Linked DNA regions of Homo sapiens. The protein of the gene in region 1 purifies or fractionates together with the protein of each later gene. This does not show direct contact. Each region holds a gene or a part of one and is shown in the gene's direction. Other genes may lie near its edges.

The links. Proteins that work in one complex are often made in the same cells at the same time.
Region 2: the proteins of SMPD1 (region 1) and ALG11 purify together in Homo sapiens (affinity purification with mass spectrometry; 2 studies listed by BioGRID and IntAct, with this or other methods). This does not show direct contact.
Region 3: the proteins of SMPD1 (region 1) and CLGN purify together in Homo sapiens (co-immunoprecipitation; 2 studies listed by BioGRID and IntAct, with this or other methods). This does not show direct contact.

What each region holds. Positions count from the first base shown.
Region 1 is NC_000011.10:6,386,423-6,393,473, forward strand, and holds the start of SMPD1 (sphingomyelin phosphodiesterase isoform 1 precursor), read left to right. Parts: upstream 1-4,051; 5' UTR 4,052-4,176; coding exon 4,177-4,494; intron 4,495-4,961; coding exon 4,962-5,734; coding exon of another isoform or gene 5,735-5,774; intron 5,775-6,793; coding exon 6,794-6,965; intron 6,966-7,051. UniProt on the Homo sapiens protein: Converts sphingomyelin to ceramide. Exists as two enzymatic forms that arise from alternative trafficking of a single protein precursor, one that is targeted to the endolysosomal compartment, whereas the other is released extracellularly.
Region 2 is NC_000013.11:52,029,398-52,034,133, forward strand, and holds the end of ALG11 (GDP-Man:Man(3)GlcNAc(2)-PP-Dol alpha-1,2-mannosyltransferase), read left to right. Parts: coding exon of another isoform or gene 1-1,708; 3' UTR 1,709-4,203; downstream 4,204-4,736. Other genes in the region: UTP14C (U3 small nucleolar RNA-associated protein 14 homolog C), read left to right, coding at 1-1,708. UniProt on the Homo sapiens protein: GDP-Man:Man(3)GlcNAc(2)-PP-Dol alpha-1,2-mannosyltransferase that operates in the biosynthetic pathway of dolichol-linked oligosaccharides, the glycan precursors employed in protein asparagine (N)-glycosylation.
Region 3 is NC_000004.12:140,389,616-140,396,648, reverse strand, and holds part of CLGN (calmegin precursor), read left to right. Parts: intron 1-443; coding exon 444-557; intron 558-679; coding exon 680-830; intron 831-2,607; coding exon 2,608-2,823; intron 2,824-3,937; coding exon 3,938-4,063; intron 4,064-4,270; coding exon 4,271-4,430; intron 4,431-5,920; coding exon 5,921-6,021; intron 6,022-7,033. UniProt on the Homo sapiens protein: Functions during spermatogenesis as a chaperone for a range of client proteins that are important for sperm adhesion onto the egg zona pellucida and for subsequent penetration of the zona pellucida.

The sequences.
Region 1 (7,051 bases):
GCACAGTGGCTCACACCTGTAATCCCAGCACTTTGGGAGGCTAAGGCAGGCGGATCACGAGGTCAAGAGATGGAGACCATCCTGGCCAACATCGTGAAGCCCCATCTCTATTAAAAATATGAAAATTAGCTGGGTGTGGTGGCAGATGCCTGTAGTCCCAGCTGCTCGGGGGGCTGGGGTAGGAGAATTGCTTGAACCCGGGAGGCGGAGGTTGCAGTGAGCCGAGATTACACTGTTGCACTCCAGCCTGGGCGACAGAGTGAGACGCCATTTTTAAAAAAAAAAAAAAGATTGTGGAGACCAAGGTTCTTTGAAGTCTCTTAGTGGCTGCCCTTAGAGACAACAGTCGACAAATGTTTCCTATTCAGACCTTTAAAAGGTGCTAGACTCTCAGTTAATCTCTTCAGGATTGGAGGGCCCAGAAGAAAAAGATCTGTGTTATTAGAGATTCTTTACAGATGTAAATTTTCCCCCATAAGGTACGACTTTGCAGGGCCATTTCAAAATATGGCAAAGTGGCCGGGTGCGGTGGCTTACTCCTGTAATCCCAGTACTTTGGGAGGCCAAGGCAGGCGGATCACCTGAGGTCAGAAGTTCGAGACCAGCCTGGCCAGCATGGCAAAACCCCATCTTTATTAACAATACAAAAATTAGCTGGGCATGGTGGTGGTGGGTGCCTGTAATCCCAGCTACTCGGGAGGCTGAGGCAGGAGAATCCCTTGAATCTGGGTGGGGGAGGTTGCAGTAAGCCAAGATCACCCCATTGCACTCCAGCCCGGGCAATAAGAGTGAAACTCTGTCCCGCCCCCCACCCCAAACCAAAAAACATATATATATATATATATATATATATATATATATATATATATATGGCAAAGAAACATGTTTTGGGGTAAAATATTTTGACTTTCTTCTTTATCACGTAATTTTATGCCAGAGTATGACTGAAAAGGCAGTCACAATATATAGTGTTAAATAAAACCCAACTGATAAGAATTTATGGTTTGTAGGGCATGACTCCCCAGACCCTTTCGATAGGAATTTGAGCAAGATAAGAAAAAATCAGAGCTTAGTCCTCATTAGGAACTGCCTCTTCTTCTCCTTTAAAAACCCACTTGTGACTTCTGCTAATTGGGAGCATATACTCAGGGCAACTTGAATCTTCGCTTCACAGTCTTCAAACTTGGCCCAAATAAACTCTCTACTTATATCAAGTTTGCCTTAGATTTTTCCCTTTAGGTTGACATTTCCCAGAAGTTTTAATCAGATGAAGAAAGCTCCCAGAAGGTTTATTTCTGCATCTATTGAATCTGAAATGTCTTCGGCTTAAAATAATTGTTATACCAACTCTGGTGTTCTGAATGGGTCCCCACACAGCAAAGAATAGAGCCAGAATGTTGCATTTGTGAAAGGAAAATAAAAACTCAGGACTCCAGTTGACTATGCCAAAAGGAAAAAAAATAAACTGAAAACTGAGTCATGCAAGAAGCTGCCTTTCCTTTTGTTCCTAAGCAGATAGCTACAGACAAAAGGTTAAATATTTACAAAATTAGCCGGGTGTGGTGGCACATGCCTGTAATCCCAGCTACTCAGTAGGCTGAGGCAGGAGAATCACTTGAACCCGGGAGGCAGAGGTTGTGGTGAGCCGAGATTGCGCCATTGCACTCCAGCCTGGTCAACAACAGCGAAAACTCTGTCTCAAAAAAAAAAAAACAAAAAAAACACAAAAGGTTAAATATCTCCACAGGCATATTTACTTTATCTTATGTAAAGTGCCAGACGAACACATAATTGAGTATCTCCCTACCTGCTCCTTTTCTCTTGCGACATGTGGATTACCATACCCTTCTTCTTTCCCTCCAGCTCACTTTTCCCCTTTAAATATTGAAGCCCTCAAAATCATCTTTGGAGAAAGCCACAGACCACAGACTGTTTCTGCGATTCCGTGTTTATTTCTTCCAGCCATGTCCTTAACCTTGGCAAAATAAACCTCTAAATTGATTGAGACCTGTCTCAGACATGTTTTGCTTGACACATCCAAATTCCAGTTCCAGCACTTACTAGCTAGCTGTGGGATCTTGAGCCACTTACTTAATCCTACTTTCCTTCTCCGTAAAATGGGGATAATTATAATACCGACTTCCAAATTTGTTGTGAGGATTAACGTAAGGCAGAGTCCTCAGAAAAGTACCTACAGAGGGTTATTCGGGCCAAGGGCCAAGGTTGAGGACTGCGACCCAGGACACACTTGCAAGTTGTCTTGGGGGAGCACTCTGGACAACAAAAGAGAGGCTCATATTTTCAAAGAAAAAAAGATGAATTAGGAGAGGAAATGAATACAAAAGTTGTTCATCAGGAATTCTCATTGTTTACAGAAATAACACTGGTTATACATTGTTTAGCGCTTGGCTATACATTGTTGAACTATAAGGTGTATGGCATTTAATGGCTACTTGGCATAGCAAGTGGTTTCAAGAGATAATTACTTAGCTCAAAGAAGAGTGAGAGTGACTGTTGCTACATTTTAAATGCCTGTCTGGGCCTGATAATTTAAAGGGGCTCATCTTCCTTAGATAAAAAGGTTTTGTTTTGTTTTGTTTTTCATAGTACATAATCTTAAAAATGCATGCTAATTATTACTGTGAGTACTCTATCTGAGATGATGTCCCCAGAACTGGGGGGAAAAAACACTTGTAAAAAATTATCAAAGGAAAGAACTGACAGGACTTGATAGCTCTGAGGATTCCTCAGAAGCACTCGTCAAACAGCTTAGGGTTTAATTGCTATTCTGCCACTTAACTTCTTTGTGCCTCATCCTATCTGTAAAGGAGGGTAATAATAGTATTTGCAGGGACCAAGGGAAACTTTCCCTTCGCCCTCTGAAATTCTGCTGAAAAATCAACCCACAAAAAACAGATTAATTGAAGAAAAGGCATAGAAATTGTATTAATGTGTCCACGGGGAACCACAGAGTGACTACCCACTTCCCAGACGAGTTCAGAAGCTTAGGTGTCATTCAGGCAAAGGGGGTTGTGGGAGTGAGGGGAAGAGGAATTCTGCTGAGGGAGAAGGAATGGATCAGGGAACAGATTAACTAGCACATTATCATGTGAAGGGGTCTGTTCAGGTGTGATTATATTCTTGGTTTTGTAGGGAGGGGAAGAAAAAAACCGTTGTTCCTTTTGATGGGTCTGGACGCTAGGTAACGGCTTTGGGAGAGAGGGCGCGGGAGTAGGAAGGCCAGACACACCTTAAGGCTTAACTTAGTAAGTCAAACCACCATATTTTGGGTATGGATTTCTGAGCCCCAATATAATAGGTACTTCTTAGGGTTGTTGTGAGAATTGAAGATTATTAATTATAAAGTGCCTGGGTTGGTGCTTGGCACATCATAAACAACTCCATAAATGCTCGCTTTTACTGTCGTGGATACACGGAGGTGGGAGACCCAATTGGGTTCCCGCCCATGTTATTGGCCCCCACGGCTATATGGTCTTTACGGCTTCCTAGTCTCTTCACCATCTCTAAGGTTTGTTTCCTCATCTGAATCACAGGTGAGTGATTCTCAGGGTGACTCAAGAGGGCTGGTGCCAGTGGCAGAGCATGGGGAATCGAGGGAAGGCGCCTTCCTGTCAGAGGCAACACACCCAGTGGGAGGATCCTGCCCGCCCTGCTCTCTCCTACCTCCCCTTCCCGGGCTAAACGCTGGGGTCGGTCTGGCAGCTATTCCGGGAATCTGAGCGCGGATTCTGACAAAGGAGACGTCTTCCACCGACCACATCACATGGAGCTCCAAAGCACGAGCACGGCCTCCCGCGGCTGTGACCTCAAGGCGGAGCCCCTGGTGACCTCAGGGAGAGTCCCCACCCCCGCAGCCCGTGCGCCCGGGGCAGGGCGGGGGCAGGGAGAGGGGGCGGAATCGGGGCGGTCCCGGGAGCGCCCCGCCCCCTCCGCCTCCGCAGCGTTGACAGCCGCCCGCCACCGAGAGATCAGCTGTCAGAGATCAGAGGAAGAGGAAGGGGCGGAGCTGCTTTGCGGCCGGCCGCGGAGCAGTCAGCCGACTACAGAGAAGGGTAATCGGGTGTCCCCGGCGCCGCCCGGGGCCCTGAGGGCTGGCTAGGGTCCAGGCCGGGGGGGACGGGACAGACGAACCAGCCCCGTGTAGGAAGCGCGACAATGCCCCGCTACGGAGCGTCACTCCGCCAGAGCTGCCCCAGGTCCGGCCGGGAGCAGGGACAAGACGGGACCGCCGGAGCCCCCGGACTCCTTTGGATGGGCCTGGTGCTGGCGCTGGCGCTGGCGCTGGCGCTGGCGCTGGCTCTGTCTGACTCTCGGGTTCTCTGGGCTCCGGCAGAGGCTCACCCTCTTTCTCCCCAAGGCCATCCTGCCAGGTTACATCGCATAGTGCCCCGGCTCCGAGATGTCTTTGGGTGGGGGAACCTCACCTGCCCAATCTGCAAAGGTCTATTCACCGCCATCAACCTCGGGCTGAAGGTGAGCACTGAAGGGGCTGCAGTGGAGGAGGCCGAAAGGAGTGCTGGGGCTGGGGGCTGGGGCTGATGCTGGTGCGCTGGGCTCAGAATGCATCCCTGATGGAGAGGGTGGCATCTACAATCCATCACTGAGTTTGCTCCCCTTTGGGGACACCCATGGCTACATGCCACCATCACCCCATTGTGACCTTTGTGAAGTAAGAAAATAATGCAGACAGTGCCTGAGGAAGTCAGCTTGCCAAGCAAAGGCCTCATGCCACAGGCCGCTGAGCTAAAGAAGAAGCGATGGCCTGGTGCTGCCTGAGTTACAGGGCAATATCTGGAAGGCAAAGGTGTGCACTGAGCTTGGTGCACTGAGTCCTGCCCAGCCCCAGTTTGGAAATGGAGGCCCAAGGGGTGGTGGCCAGGGGTTGGCCTGGTTCCTCTGCTCTGCCTCTGATTTCTCACCATGCGCTCCTCCCACTGCAGAAGGAACCCAATGTGGCTCGCGTGGGCTCCGTGGCCATCAAGCTGTGCAATCTGCTGAAGATAGCACCACCTGCCGTGTGCCAATCCATTGTCCACCTCTTTGAGGATGACATGGTGGAGGTGTGGAGACGCTCAGTGCTGAGCCCATCTGAGGCCTGTGGCCTGCTCCTGGGCTCCACCTGTGGGCACTGGGACATTTTCTCATCTTGGAACATCTCTTTGCCTACTGTGCCGAAGCCGCCCCCCAAACCCCCTAGCCCCCCAGCCCCAGGTGCCCCTGTCAGCCGCATCCTCTTCCTCACTGACCTGCACTGGGATCATGACTACCTGGAGGGCACGGACCCTGACTGTGCAGACCCACTGTGCTGCCGCCGGGGTTCTGGCCTGCCGCCCGCATCCCGGCCAGGTGCCGGATACTGGGGCGAATACAGCAAGTGTGACCTGCCCCTGAGGACCCTGGAGAGCCTGTTGAGTGGGCTGGGCCCAGCCGGCCCTTTTGATATGGTGTACTGGACAGGAGACATCCCCGCACATGATGTCTGGCACCAGACTCGTCAGGACCAACTGCGGGCCCTGACCACCGTCACAGCACTTGTGAGGAAGTTCCTGGGGCCAGTGCCAGTGTACCCTGCTGTGGGTAACCATGAAAGCACACCTGTCAATAGCTTCCCTCCCCCCTTCATTGAGGGCAACCACTCCTCCCGCTGGCTCTATGAAGCGATGGCCAAGGCTTGGGAGCCCTGGCTGCCTGCCGAAGCCCTGCGCACCCTCAGGTACTTATCGTCCGTGGAAACCCAGGAAGGGAAAAGAAAGGTGAATGAAAGTGAAGGGAGAAGGGAACCTGGGGCATTGTCTCTGATTGCTCTAGCATGAGTCCTTAGTGCTCTTCATTTGGCTCCCCTAATCTGACTCCTCCTTCCCTTTCTACTGTTTTGCCGCACCAGGCTTTTTTTTTTTTTTTTTTTTTAGTTTAGTTTTTGTAGAGACAAGATCTTGCTATGTTGCCCAGGCTGGTCTCAAACACCTAACCTCAAGCAATCCTCCCGCCTCGGCCTCCCAAAATGCTGGGACCACAGGCATCAGCTACTGCTCCTGGCCCTCCCTTTTTTTTTTTTTTTTTTTTTTTTTTTTTGAGATGGAATCTTGCTCTGTTGCCCAGGCTGGAGTGCAGTGGCACCATCTCAGCTCACTACAGCCTCCACCTCCTGGGTTCAAGCAATTCTGCCTCAGCCTCCCAAGTACCTGGGACTACAGGTGCACGCCACCACACCCAGCTAATTTTTGTATTTTTAGTAGAGATGGGGTTTCACCATGTTGGCCAAGATGGTCTTGATCTCCTGACCTCATGATCTGCCCACCTCGGCCTCCCAAAGTGCTGGGATTACAGGCATGAACCACTGCACCCAGCTTTCCAGCCCTCCCTTTCTACTCTTATCTCCAGCCACCCTCCTTCAAAGGTCTGGCAGCATAACCTCTCTATGCCCCAGCTGTGTCTTTGCTCATGTTGGCCCTCTGGAAATGATTTCCCCCTTTTTTTTAAGTGCTCCAGTTTTTCCCACCTTATCCATCCCATGTCATCTTCCCTCTGTGTGGTCCTTGCTTCCCATTCTAGCTAACTCTTATCCCTCCCCCATACTCCTGGAGCCCTCTGCCCTCAGAGTCTTTTGTGTCACACAGACCCAATAATTAGAACTGTTTGGTCTCTGGCTAGACTGTGAGCTCCTTGCAGGTGGGGAAGATGTCATGTATGCTTTTACCCTCCACCCAAATGCCCAGCACAGGAGGACCAGGATTGGAACAAGTGTTGACCTCTCATGTTTACTTTGTTTCAGAATTGGGGGGTTCTATGCTCTTTCCCCATACCCCGGTCTCCGCCTCATCTCTCTCAATATGAATTTTTGTTCCCGTGAGAACTTCTGGCTCTTGATCAACTCCACGGATCCCGCAGGACAGCTCCAGTGGCTGGTGGGGGAGCTTCAGGCTGCTGAGGATCGAGGAGACAAAGTGAGGGCCAGTAGTGGGAACACGGTGGTGCTGGGGGACAAGCAGGCTCCTGTTGAGCTGGAGCACCTCTGGGCACAGAAGTTTTA
Region 2 (4,736 bases), on another chromosome or scaffold:
GACAGATCCTTTACTGACTCCCATGGAAAAGGCCTCTCTCCAAGCCATGAGCCTGGAAGAGGCAAAGATGCACCGAGCAGAGCTTCAGAGGGCTCGGGCTCTGCAGTCCTACTATGAGGCCAAGGCTCGAAAAGAGAAGAAAATCAAAAGTAAAAAGTATCACAAAGTCGTGAAGAAAGGAAAGGCCAAGAAAGCCTTAAAAGAGTTTGAGCAGCTACAGAAGGTTAATCCAACTGTGGCACTGGAAGAAATGGAAAAAATTGAAAATGCCAGAATGATGGAAAGAATGAGCCTTAAGCACCAAAACAGTGGGAAATGGGCCAAGTCAAAGGCAATTATGGCCAAATATGACCTGGAGGCTCGCCAAGCTATGCAGGAACAGTTGGCCAAGAACAAAGAACTGACACAGAAACTCCAGGTAGCCTCTGAGAGTGAGGAAGAGGAGGGAGGCACAGAAGTGGAAGAACTCCTTGTCCCTCATGTAGCGAATGAAGTGCAGATGAATGTGGACGGACCGAATCCCTGGATGTTCAGGAGCTGCACCAGTGACACCAAAGAGGCTGCAACACAGGAGGACCCTGAGCAAGTGCCAGAGCTTGCAGCTCATGAGGTTTCTGCAAGTGAGGCAGAAGAAAGACCAGTGGCAGAGGAAGAAATTTTGTTGAGAGAATTTGAGGAAAGGCAATCCCTTAGAAAAAGATCTGAGCTCAACCAGGATGCTGAGCCAGCAAGCAGTCAAGAAACAAAAGATTCTAGCAGCCAGGAGGTGCTGTCCGAATTGAGGGCACTATCTCAGAAATTGAAGGAAAAACATCAGTCCAGGAAGCAAAAAGCAAGTTCAGAGGGGACTGTTCCCCAGGTCCAGAGAGAGGAACCTGCCCCAGAAGAAGCGGAACCCCTATTGCTACAGAGGTCAGAGAGAGTACAAACTCTGGAAGAGCTAGAAGAGCTGGGAAAAGAAGATTGTTTTCAAAATAAGGAGCTTCCCAGACCTGTGTTAGAAGGACAGCAGTCAGAGAGGACCCCAAATAATCGGCCTGATGCCCCTAAGGAGAAGAAAGAGAAGGAGCAACTGATCAACCTACAGAACTTCCTGACCACACAGTCTCCTTCCGTGAGGTCTTTGGCAGTTCCCACAATAATAGAGGAGCTGGAAGATGAAGAGGAGAGAGACCAAAGGCAGATGATAAAGGAAGCTTTTGCTGGGGATGATGTCATCAGAGATTTCTTGAAAGAGAAGAGGGAAGCTGTGGAGGCGAGTAAGCCAAAGGACGTGGACCTGACACTACCTGGCTGGGGCGAGTGGGGTGGTGTGGGCCTAAAGCCCAGTGCCAAGAAAAGACGCCAGTTTCTCATTAAAGCCCCTGAGGGTCCTCCAAGAAAAGATAAGAATTTGCCAAATGTGATTATCAGTGAGAAGCGCAACATCCACGCAGCAGCTCATCAGGTACAAGTGCTTCCATATCCATTTACCCACCATCGGCAATTTGAAAGGACCATCCAGACCCCTATAGGATCCACATGGAACACCCAGAGGGCTTTCCAAAAGCTGACTACTCCCAAGGTCGTCACCAAGCCAGGCCATATCATTAAGCCCATAAAAGCAGAGGATGTGGGCTACCAGTCTTCCTCAAGGTCAGACCTGCCTGTCATACAGAGGAATCCAAAACGAATCACCACACGTCACAATAAAGAAGAAAAACTGTAGGTTGTGTAGCTGGAGAAGTGACAGTCAGGGGCCCTGATTCCACTTCCTTTGGTCCAGTTTTACTCTGCTACAGGGTGGATTCCAAAACTGGCTCAGCACATTGCATGTAGTTGAGCCACATTTTTTAAAAAAAGAAAATGGATGACCATTAATTGACTAGCATTTTAGAATTGATCAGACATTAGAACACAGAAAAATTCTAGTACATTTAAATTCTAAACAATACAGTGGATGACCCTTTTGAATATACCTAATGATTTCCTTAAAAAAGAAATTTTAAACAGACTTGTTTAATCGTGTTCTCAAAGCATACAGTCAAGAGGTGGGACTGACTGATGCTTTATAGGTGTGTGTAGGGTGGTAGAGGCCAAGGTGCTGCCAGCAATCCTTTCCATACTAGGTACTGGTGAAAATTGTTTTTGTTTATGCTGTCAGCACATTTGTGTGGGTCTCTCATTGTCCCTTAACAGTGCCGCATCTCAGCCTGGAAGTCAGCTTTAAGTCATTCAAGAGAACCTCAGGCTGTTTTTCTGACAGTGATGATATGATATACAGATACATCCACAGGGTATCTATTACCAGCATAATGCATTGTAAGATGGCAAGGTGGCATTTTGAAAGAGCGCTGGGCAAGCAGTTAGCACATCTGGGCCTACCTTCAGCTTCTTCATTTACAAACTTCTGACCTTTTGACACTAAAGCTGCTCCTTTATCTTTCTGAGTCTCAGATTCTTCATCTGTAATCTGGAGTTGTTAATTCCAGTCCTTACTACCTTTTAGAGTTGGAATGAGATGGAAAGTAGATGAAACTACTTTGAAAATTACGACAGTTAAGGGCTGGGTGCGGTGTCTCACACCTGTAATCCCAGCACTTTGGGAGGCCGAGATGGGTGGATCATGAGGTCAGCAGTTGAGACCAGCCTGAACAACATGGTGAAACCCTGTCTGTACTAAAAATACAAAAAAATTAGCTGGGCCTGGTGGCAGGCACCTGTAATCCCAGCTACTTGGGAGACTGAGGCAGGAGAATTGCTTGAAACTGGAAGGCAGAGGTTGCAGTGAGCCAAGATTGTGCCACTGCACTCTAGCCTGGGCAATAAGCAAAACTCCATCTCAAAAAAGAAAAAAAGGAAAAAGAAAATTATGAGAGTTACTTAAAGGTAACATCACATACTAAATGTCTTCTATAATCCTATATTTATTAATGCATTACAACTCTGTAGATTGTTAGTTACTAGGCCAGTAGCTAGGAATTGGTATAAATTTAATGCACCTTCTATCCTGAATAACTAGCATGGAAAAGTGAATATATGTGTGAGCAGATATGGCTATAAAGACCTATAGCTTTTGCACTTTATGCATATATAATCAATCCTTTCTAGTTCAGTGAATTGACCCCATCCACAGGCTGATTCATCTTTGTGTTAAGGGGCAAATGAAACGGTATATTATTTCTTTGCAGTCTCCTCTCAGTCATTCATCAATGTGGCCAGCTTATCTACTCCCAATTATGTTGTTGATACATCTCCAAGCCATCTGTCATCAGATCAAAAAGCAGCAAACAGAGGGTCAGTCACAGGATGTTCTGACACACCATTGTAACTTTTTGTTAGAGATGATCCCATTTAGAAAAAGACTGGTAGAAATTGGAGTGAAAGGAACCCTACAGATTAGCCCAGTTCTCTCTTATTTTCAGCTTTACAGACAAGAACAATTTAAATCTAAAGAATTTAGTAGATTCCTTCAGTGTCACAAAGCTGTTTCATGAAAGAATCAAGATTATAACCTGGATATTCTGACTCCTGGCCCAGTGCTTTTTCTTACTTTGTAGCTACACTTTGAAGTAAGATTCAAACTGTTATCCACTCAATTGCCTTATTCCTGAGGATGTAGTGAAGGAAGAAAAAGTTTTCTGGAATTCCGTAAATTATATTTTAAGCTTATTTCTTCAAAATTATTTTCATATATCACAGATATATCATTGGAAGATATAATTTGCATATATGTTCATTATCAGTGTTCCTAATTTGGTATTACATGTATTCTATTTTTTTCTGAATGATAGCATGAAAAGTGTCAAAGTGGTTTGTCCGCTAGCGTCTGTCTGCAGAACTTTCAGGATGACTATTAATTCCTCTCAGATGTCATTTTTGAGTGGTCCAAGCCTGCTGTTTTGAACCCACAGCAGTGGAGATTTGTATTCTTATTTACAGTTGTGTACTATAAAGTGTGTGTTACATAGGTTTTGTGTAATAATTATTTGTAAATATTATTTAGATTTGTATTTAGACATGATTTATATCTAATATAGATACAAAGTCTGTGTCTAAATATTATTTAAAGAAGTGATTTTTCATTCTCTTGGATTCTTTCCAGTGTGGTGCCTTTTATATGCCTCACATAGTCTCCTTGTTCTCCTACTAATATTCCCAAGCTCCATATGCCAATTAAAGAAGAAACAAAAATAAAAGTTTGTCTTGCTTGTGAAACATTAAGAAGAGGCTGTCAGGTTTAATAAACTTTTTAATGAATATTTCAGACATAACAAAAAACTGCAGAGCTTCGTACACTTGATTTAAATAATTCTTGAGGGATTTTATAAGGTCATCTTATAGACAAAATTAAGAGACACCAGTGTGGTTATCAATGCTTTCAGAATACTTGTGTTTATGTAAATATACCCCAGAGTCCAAAACTCTGATATATTCATATATATTCACAATGAGAGGATGTCTGTGCCAAATCTGTCAATCAGTACAATAGAAAAGTTAATTATATAACTACAACACGAAACACAAATTTTTAGAAGCAAATTATGTCCTGTAATTTACCCCCCTCCCCGCTGCTCCTCTGCTAACTCATTTTCCTCTTTTCCCACTCTAAATGTAAGGCAACCCTTGGCTTTGGAGAAGCATCTGTTCCAATATTCTGGTGCTATGTGCTCAGTTGTACTATATGCAAATGTTACTAGACACAGAGGAGGTCAAAGTGTTGATACACTTATTGCTACCATTTACAGAATGATCAA
Region 3 (7,033 bases), on another chromosome or scaffold:
GAAGGCAGAGGTTGCAGTGAGCTGAGGTCGCACTATTGCACTCCAGCCTGGGAAACAAGAACAAGACTCCACCTCAAGAAAAAAATAATAATAATGGAGCTCCTCGAACAGTCTTGACACATAGTAAGCATGCAATATATATTTGTTGATGAATGACTGAGTTTTTAAGTAACAAAAGCAAGGTCTAATACATTATGTATAGAATGCTATCATTCGTATTAAAAAAAAGAATGTATACGTGTGTGCATGTATGCATAGAGCACAACAGGGAATATGTACCAAAAATTGGCAAGTTAGCAAAAGATTTAGGTGGGTAGTAGATGAGGACAAATAACAGGCACAAACAAAAGGGAGGGAAATAATTTTATGGTACCTTCTTAGTGTTGTAACATGCATTTTTAAACTTTCTGAATAATTAGTAATATAAAACGTTGTATTTACAGGGATGAAAGTGAACCTGCCCAAATAGAAGATTCAAGTGTTGTTAAACCTGCTGGCTGGCTTGATGATGAACCAAAATTTATCCCTGATCCTAATGCTGAAAAACCTGATGACTGGTAAGCACTCTTCATCTTCAAATGTCGATTTCAAATGTTTCTTACATGCATTTTTGTTACTAGTTTATATGACTGATCTGAGACTTGAGGTTACTGTATTTGCTTTGTTTTAATATCCTAAGGAATGAAGACACGGATGGAGAATGGGAGGCACCTCAGATTCTTAATCCAGCATGTCGGATTGGGTGTGGTGAGTGGAAACCTCCCATGATAGATAACCCAAAATACAAAGGAGTATGGAGACCTCCACTGGTCGATAATCCTAACTATCAGGTAACAACCGCTTGTTCCAATTATTTAGTGAAGTTAAAAATGTTGTGATCTTTTCTATTTAAATATCTAATTACCTATGTCAACTTTTGGAAGTTTCATTTTTAATTTTAAGATGTCAAAGAAAATAGACCTCAACTAATTTATATTTTAAAAGTAGAGCATCAATTATTTAATTTTCTGGGGAAATAAATCACTTCATACTATATTCTTCCCTAATTATCAGTTGATGCTCACTTTGAAATAAAGTTCTATTTTAGAAGTAAATATAAGAAGTGAATTTTGATCAAATAGACTCATATTGTACATTTTAGTAATTAATGCCTGTGCTTAATTAATGTACTTATTATTTAGTATTATTAAAATTCTGATTTTTGGCCAGGTACGGTGGCTCATGCCTGTAATCCCAGCACTTTGGGAGTCCAAGGCGGGCGGATCACGAGGTCAGGAGATGGAGACCACCCTGGTCAACATGGTGAAACCCTGTCTCCACTAAAAATACAAAAAATTAGCCAGATGTGGTGGCGCACGCCTGTAGTCCCAGCTACTCAGGAGGCTGAGGCAGGGGAATCTCTTGGACCCTGGAGGTGGAGATCGCAGTGAGCTGAGATCGTGCCACTGCACTCCCGCCTGGCGACACAGCAAGACTCAAAACAAAAAAACAAAAAAACAAAAAACCTGGCCTGGCGTGATCTTGGCTCACTGCAGCCTCTGCCTCCTGGGCTCAGGCGATTCTCCTGATTCACCCTCCTACGTAGCTGAGATTACAGGCACACCCCAGCACGCCCGGCTAACTTTTGTATTTTTAGCGGAGACGGGGTTTCACATGTTGGTCAGGCTGGTCTCGAACTCCTGACCGTGATCCGCCCACCTTGGCCTCCCAAAGTGCTCAGGTTACAGAAGTAAGCCACCGAACCCAGCCCTGATTTTTTTCTGATATCAATCGACATCTTTTGAGTGTACCTAGCTTTTTATATTAAAAGTTTCTATGTTATCCACTTAACCCTCTAGTTTTATCTTTGTAATTATTTATGGATACGTTCTAACATTATATATATGCAGTTTCATATTCTAATTACTCACTGTAGTTTTTATTAAAAGCATTTAACACAAAATGTTTCTTTTGGTAAATTTTTTTGTTTGATGTCTGTCTCTTTTATTTGACTTTAAACTCCATAATACAGGAACCATGTATGTCTCCATCATCTGGCATAGTGCCTGGCCCAGAATACATACATGTGATGGTGGAGTGAGTCAGTGAGCAATGATATTGTTGAATGTATTTGATTTAATGGACAGTTTAATCATTTAAGATCTAATGGAAGTTTTAGGTTGAGTAGTTGTGCCGAGATTCAACCATACCTGATTAATGATATCTGTCATGGGTATATGTTAAATGGAGTAACTCCATTTTTGCTATACAATGATCTTTCTGATTTGGACAACTTGAATAACATTTTGCAATGAATAACTTTACTAAATCTAAAAATTTGTCCAAAGTAGACAAATTGTGAAATTTATTCACGTTTCTGTTTATGTTGGATTTTCCCTTTTCCTTTTCTTGCAGAATTTAAAGTTAGTATCACTCGTAGGGAACATTGTGTACACAGCAAAAGAAACAAGATTTTATATCCAGTATATTACTAATGAATTAATATCAGTTAAAATTCTCTTTTTTCCAGTTAGCATTGCGAATTTCATTCAACAGCAGCTACTTATTAAGCAGCATTTATAATGAAGTTATTTTATTTGAAAATGTCTTCAATTACTTTTCTTCCAGGGAATCTGGAGTCCTCGAAAAATTCCTAATCCAGATTATTTCGAAGATGATCATCCATTTCTTCTGACTTCTTTCAGTGCTCTTGGTTTAGAGCTTTGGTCTATGACCTCTGATATCTACTTTGATAATTTTATTATCTGTTCGGAAAAGGAAGTAGCAGATCACTGGGCTGCAGATGGTTGGAGATGGAAAATAATGATAGCAAATGCTAATAAGGTATGGTGTTGACCAATAGCAGTAGTGATATAACTATGAATAATAATACTTGGTCTTGGTTGTAGGTTATTCAGATGGCTCTTTTAAATGCAAATAAATGTGCAGTAACTACTAAATGCCAAGGAAATGTGTTTGAATAAGTTTATGTAGACAGAATATTTTGCTTTTTATGTTACTTCATTATGAGCTATATATGCATATGTAAGTCCTCATTTTATTCATTAAATTATAACATCACTAATGGGATTTAATGCTTATTTACTGTTCATAGAAGAAGACTACTTAATATCTTTGTCATCTTGCCAGTTCAAGACCTAAGTGACAATGATAATCTAAATATTACTGTTTATTTAACTATTTTTTACTTAGAGGAATGTACAAAGAATTTATAGTTTAACATTATTAAATTCTGTTCCAGTTTTTTCCCGAAACCTTAACACTGTTTAGAAAAGGTTGGGCTAAATATTTCAACACAATGCATCTTAGAAAATGTATCATTAAATTCAGTTGCTATAAAGAAAAATTCTTACCTTACATTTGGTTCCTTGGGTCACTAGCGAAAAACCATCAAAAGAGTAGGTGAAGAGGGATTCTTGTTTTGAACCTCTTGTAACTAAAACATTTGATTTTTTAAATTTTATTTTAATAAGAGAAATAATATCCTTACTGAGGGTCTTATGTGTGAAATGTGTTTATATAAAAAAGAAAACAATTCTGAGGTATGATTTTTAGTAAGTTCTTTAAAAGTACAGAATGAATGATCAGAGTACAGAATGAATGATCACTTCAAATAAACCAGGTAATACATCCATAAAAGGTAGTTCTATTCTGAAATTTACCAAAAAGGAAAATTACCATTTTTCTTGCCAGTATGTTAGAAGTTTCCACTTTTGTCATAACATACCTTCTGCTATCAAGTCTCACTCAGTGATGCATGCTAATAATTAAATTAGACTTTACAAAGTATAAGGTGGGAAAATGAAACTTCTTTTACTTACGAGTTCATCACTCCTTAATGTAAAATGCCTGAGTAAATAAGTTTTTTTGTATCTTGTGTTACCCAGTAAAGGTTTGTAAAATTTGAATTGCATTTTTATGCTTATCTCGTCTATAGCCTGGTGTATTAAAACAGTTAATGGCAGCTGCTGAAGGGCACCCATGGCTTTGGTTGATTTATCTTGTGACAGCAGGAGTGCCAATAGCATTAATTACTTCATTTTGTTGGCCAAGAAAAGTAAAGGTAAAGAAAATGGATTTCCTTCAACTTTTTTCACCCAAATTTCTTGTTGTTTAAGAGTTCTATAAATTAAGCGATTCTTAAAAGTAATAAACTAAATGTCTCATAAGTTTTACTGATAGTTCATTATGTATGTTATCAATTATTGCAAAAAAACTTTCAAAATAGCACTCTGCCTTTAGTAAAAATAACTTATGTTAACTACCACAGAAAAAACATAAAGATACAGAGTATAAAAAAACCGACATATGTATACCACAAACAAAAGGAGTACTAGAGCAAGAAGAAAAGGAAGAGAAAGCAGCCCTGGAAAAACCAATGGACCTGGAAGAGGAAAAAAAGCAAAATGATGGTGAAATGCTTGAAAAAGGTAAGATGATGAGAGTGATTTATAATGGAGACTCTGGGTAAAGCTCATAAAACTGTATATGGCCTTGAAATAACTAGTTATTATACTTGTTTATTATCAAGTTTATACATCTGAATCTCCCAAGAATATGTGACTGTGGCAAGAAGGAATAATAGTCCTCTGAGCAGCCACCCTGTTTATAGTTTTTGCATTCTAGGAAGAAGGAGATTTAAATAGTGTTCAGTTGCTTGAGAGCCTAGCAGTTAATGAATCCCATAGGCCATAGCTTTTTGCAAGGATGTTTCTTGGCTCTGGGAGTGTAGAAGATGAGATGGAGGGTGATAGAGGGTGTATATCATGGCCTCTGTAGAAAAGGAATAGATATAAAACAGATGATTGCAGCAACAAAATCAACACCAAGTCTTCCAACAGCTATTGTTAGTCAGATGCTTATCATATAGAAGAAATAATTTAATTAATTTTCTGAAAGGATTGCTGAACCTATATCCCCTTCTCACCCTATGTTAAACTCTTGAAGATGTTAGAACTGAAGTCACCCTTTGGTGGCTGTCCGCTGAGACCTCCTTACATAAGGTAGAAATAAAACTATTGATTTGCCCAGTGTCCCAAGCCAAATGTCTTGAAGCACAGTGTTTAACTCACTTAATGAAACAGTTGACTTAAAAACACATATGTGTCTATCTATTTTTTAAGAGACAGTATATATATATATACACACATATACATACACATGTTCATGTGTGTATTAGGATAGGTATCTAAAACAACAAATGTTTCAGGTTGTAAGTTTCCAGCCTTGTTTTTGTAACTTCTTAGTGCTTAGTATATTGATGTCTGGATCAGCCTTATTTAGAGGGAATTTAAGTATCGGAGGGGCCTGCTTGTATAAAGGTACTTTCACCACTTTCATCTATACACGTAGTCCCACATTGGAACTACGTAGAAGAAGTAGAGTTGATTTTTCAACTTCCCTTTCCCCAAAGCCCATTCTTGGTAGGGTAGGAGTTTTTACTTTATATAGCTCCTAGGACGTGCTTAATATCTTTTGGTTAATAATGATGACAAAAGTTGGAGGTTCTGCTAAATGGAATCCTAAGGAGGGTCAATAACTGAAAAAATGCATGATGTCCACAGAGAACAAACATAAGTAAATAACATATTGAAGATTAAAAGATCACCAAAAATTAAAGGAAGTATTTTCCAAGACAGGAACACAGGAAAGATTATTATTTTTTGGTTTTCATATTACATACAGACTGAATGCTTAAGAATTTTTTAAACTTGTCCCCAAACTCAAATATGATTCATTTATAAAATATGATAATATAATGAGTATTTATAATTTTTAAAATTTTGAATGGAAGAAGTTGCTTCTAAATCTTGGAATAAATCTTGGAATTTAAATAAATCCCATTTATTGTATTTAATACTTTTCAGTAGCAAAATTCTAATTTATTGAGTCTTTGCTTTTAACAAAATCTGTATTCTAGAAGAGGAAAGTGAACCTGAGGAAAAGAGTGAAGAAGAAATTGAAATCATAGAAGGGCAAGAAGAAAGTAATCAATCAAATAAGTCTGGGTCAGAGGATGAGGTAACAGAAAATAAGCTGGTTTCTATGTATAGTTGTTATCCATAAAAAGTTTTTTCAATAAAAGCACCAATATGATTTATGAAAGAATTTTTGCCATATTTCTCTCAGCTTTTATAAGAGCCTCTATATTGTTTTTAAAACATATCCATAAGGAAGGAAAGAAAAATACTGTAATTTATATTGTCTCAATGCCTAGTAAAACAGTATAGAGCAAGCCTGTGGCGTACAAAATATAAAGATAGAATACATGTATCCAAAATTATGACTTTCTCATTGAAATTCTATTGAAAAGCATAATAAACACATTGTTTGAATATTTAAAAGATAATTATCATTATTATAATTTTTATAGCTGTTGTAAAACATCTTTATTGTCTCAACATTTTACTCTCACGTTTTAAAATATTTCATTCATTGGGTAGTTGAGTACTATCTGCCTGATAGGGTATTTTTCTCAAATCTTTAGTGAACTTTTCTCCCCCCTTATTAGTCTACCCCTTTTTGTGTCCTGATATAAAATGGAACTTTGCACAATGCTTTTTTTTTGTAAGTTATTATGGAATGAGAAATCCCGAGTATAATTAGAGCCAGAGCTGTCTTTTTTCTTTTTTGTTTTTAATCCAGCATAAACCAAAAACCAGTTTTCTCTGGCCCTTAAAGAGCTGGGTAGCCTTACCCCACAGAGTCACCATCCTAACATATTACATTCCAACTATGTAGGTAGGATAAAAGTACAGTTCTGCCTGCTCTTGCATGTGATGAAATGAATTTTGTATTTTATCTATTTAAAGAAATCCTCCAAATAAATTTGCAATTATTGTTAAGTCTTTCCTAATGTTTAATCAGTACACATACTGTTTGCTGGTCTTCCTGCCCTCTGAGTTTTTATAGGGACTTTGGGACCATTATTTAGTATGAATATCCATATTTAGGGAGAGCTAGGTGAAGAGAATTTCTTCCAGAGCCAAGTTTTAAATAATCATTGTTTCTGCTGTGACTTTCTTAAAATAAT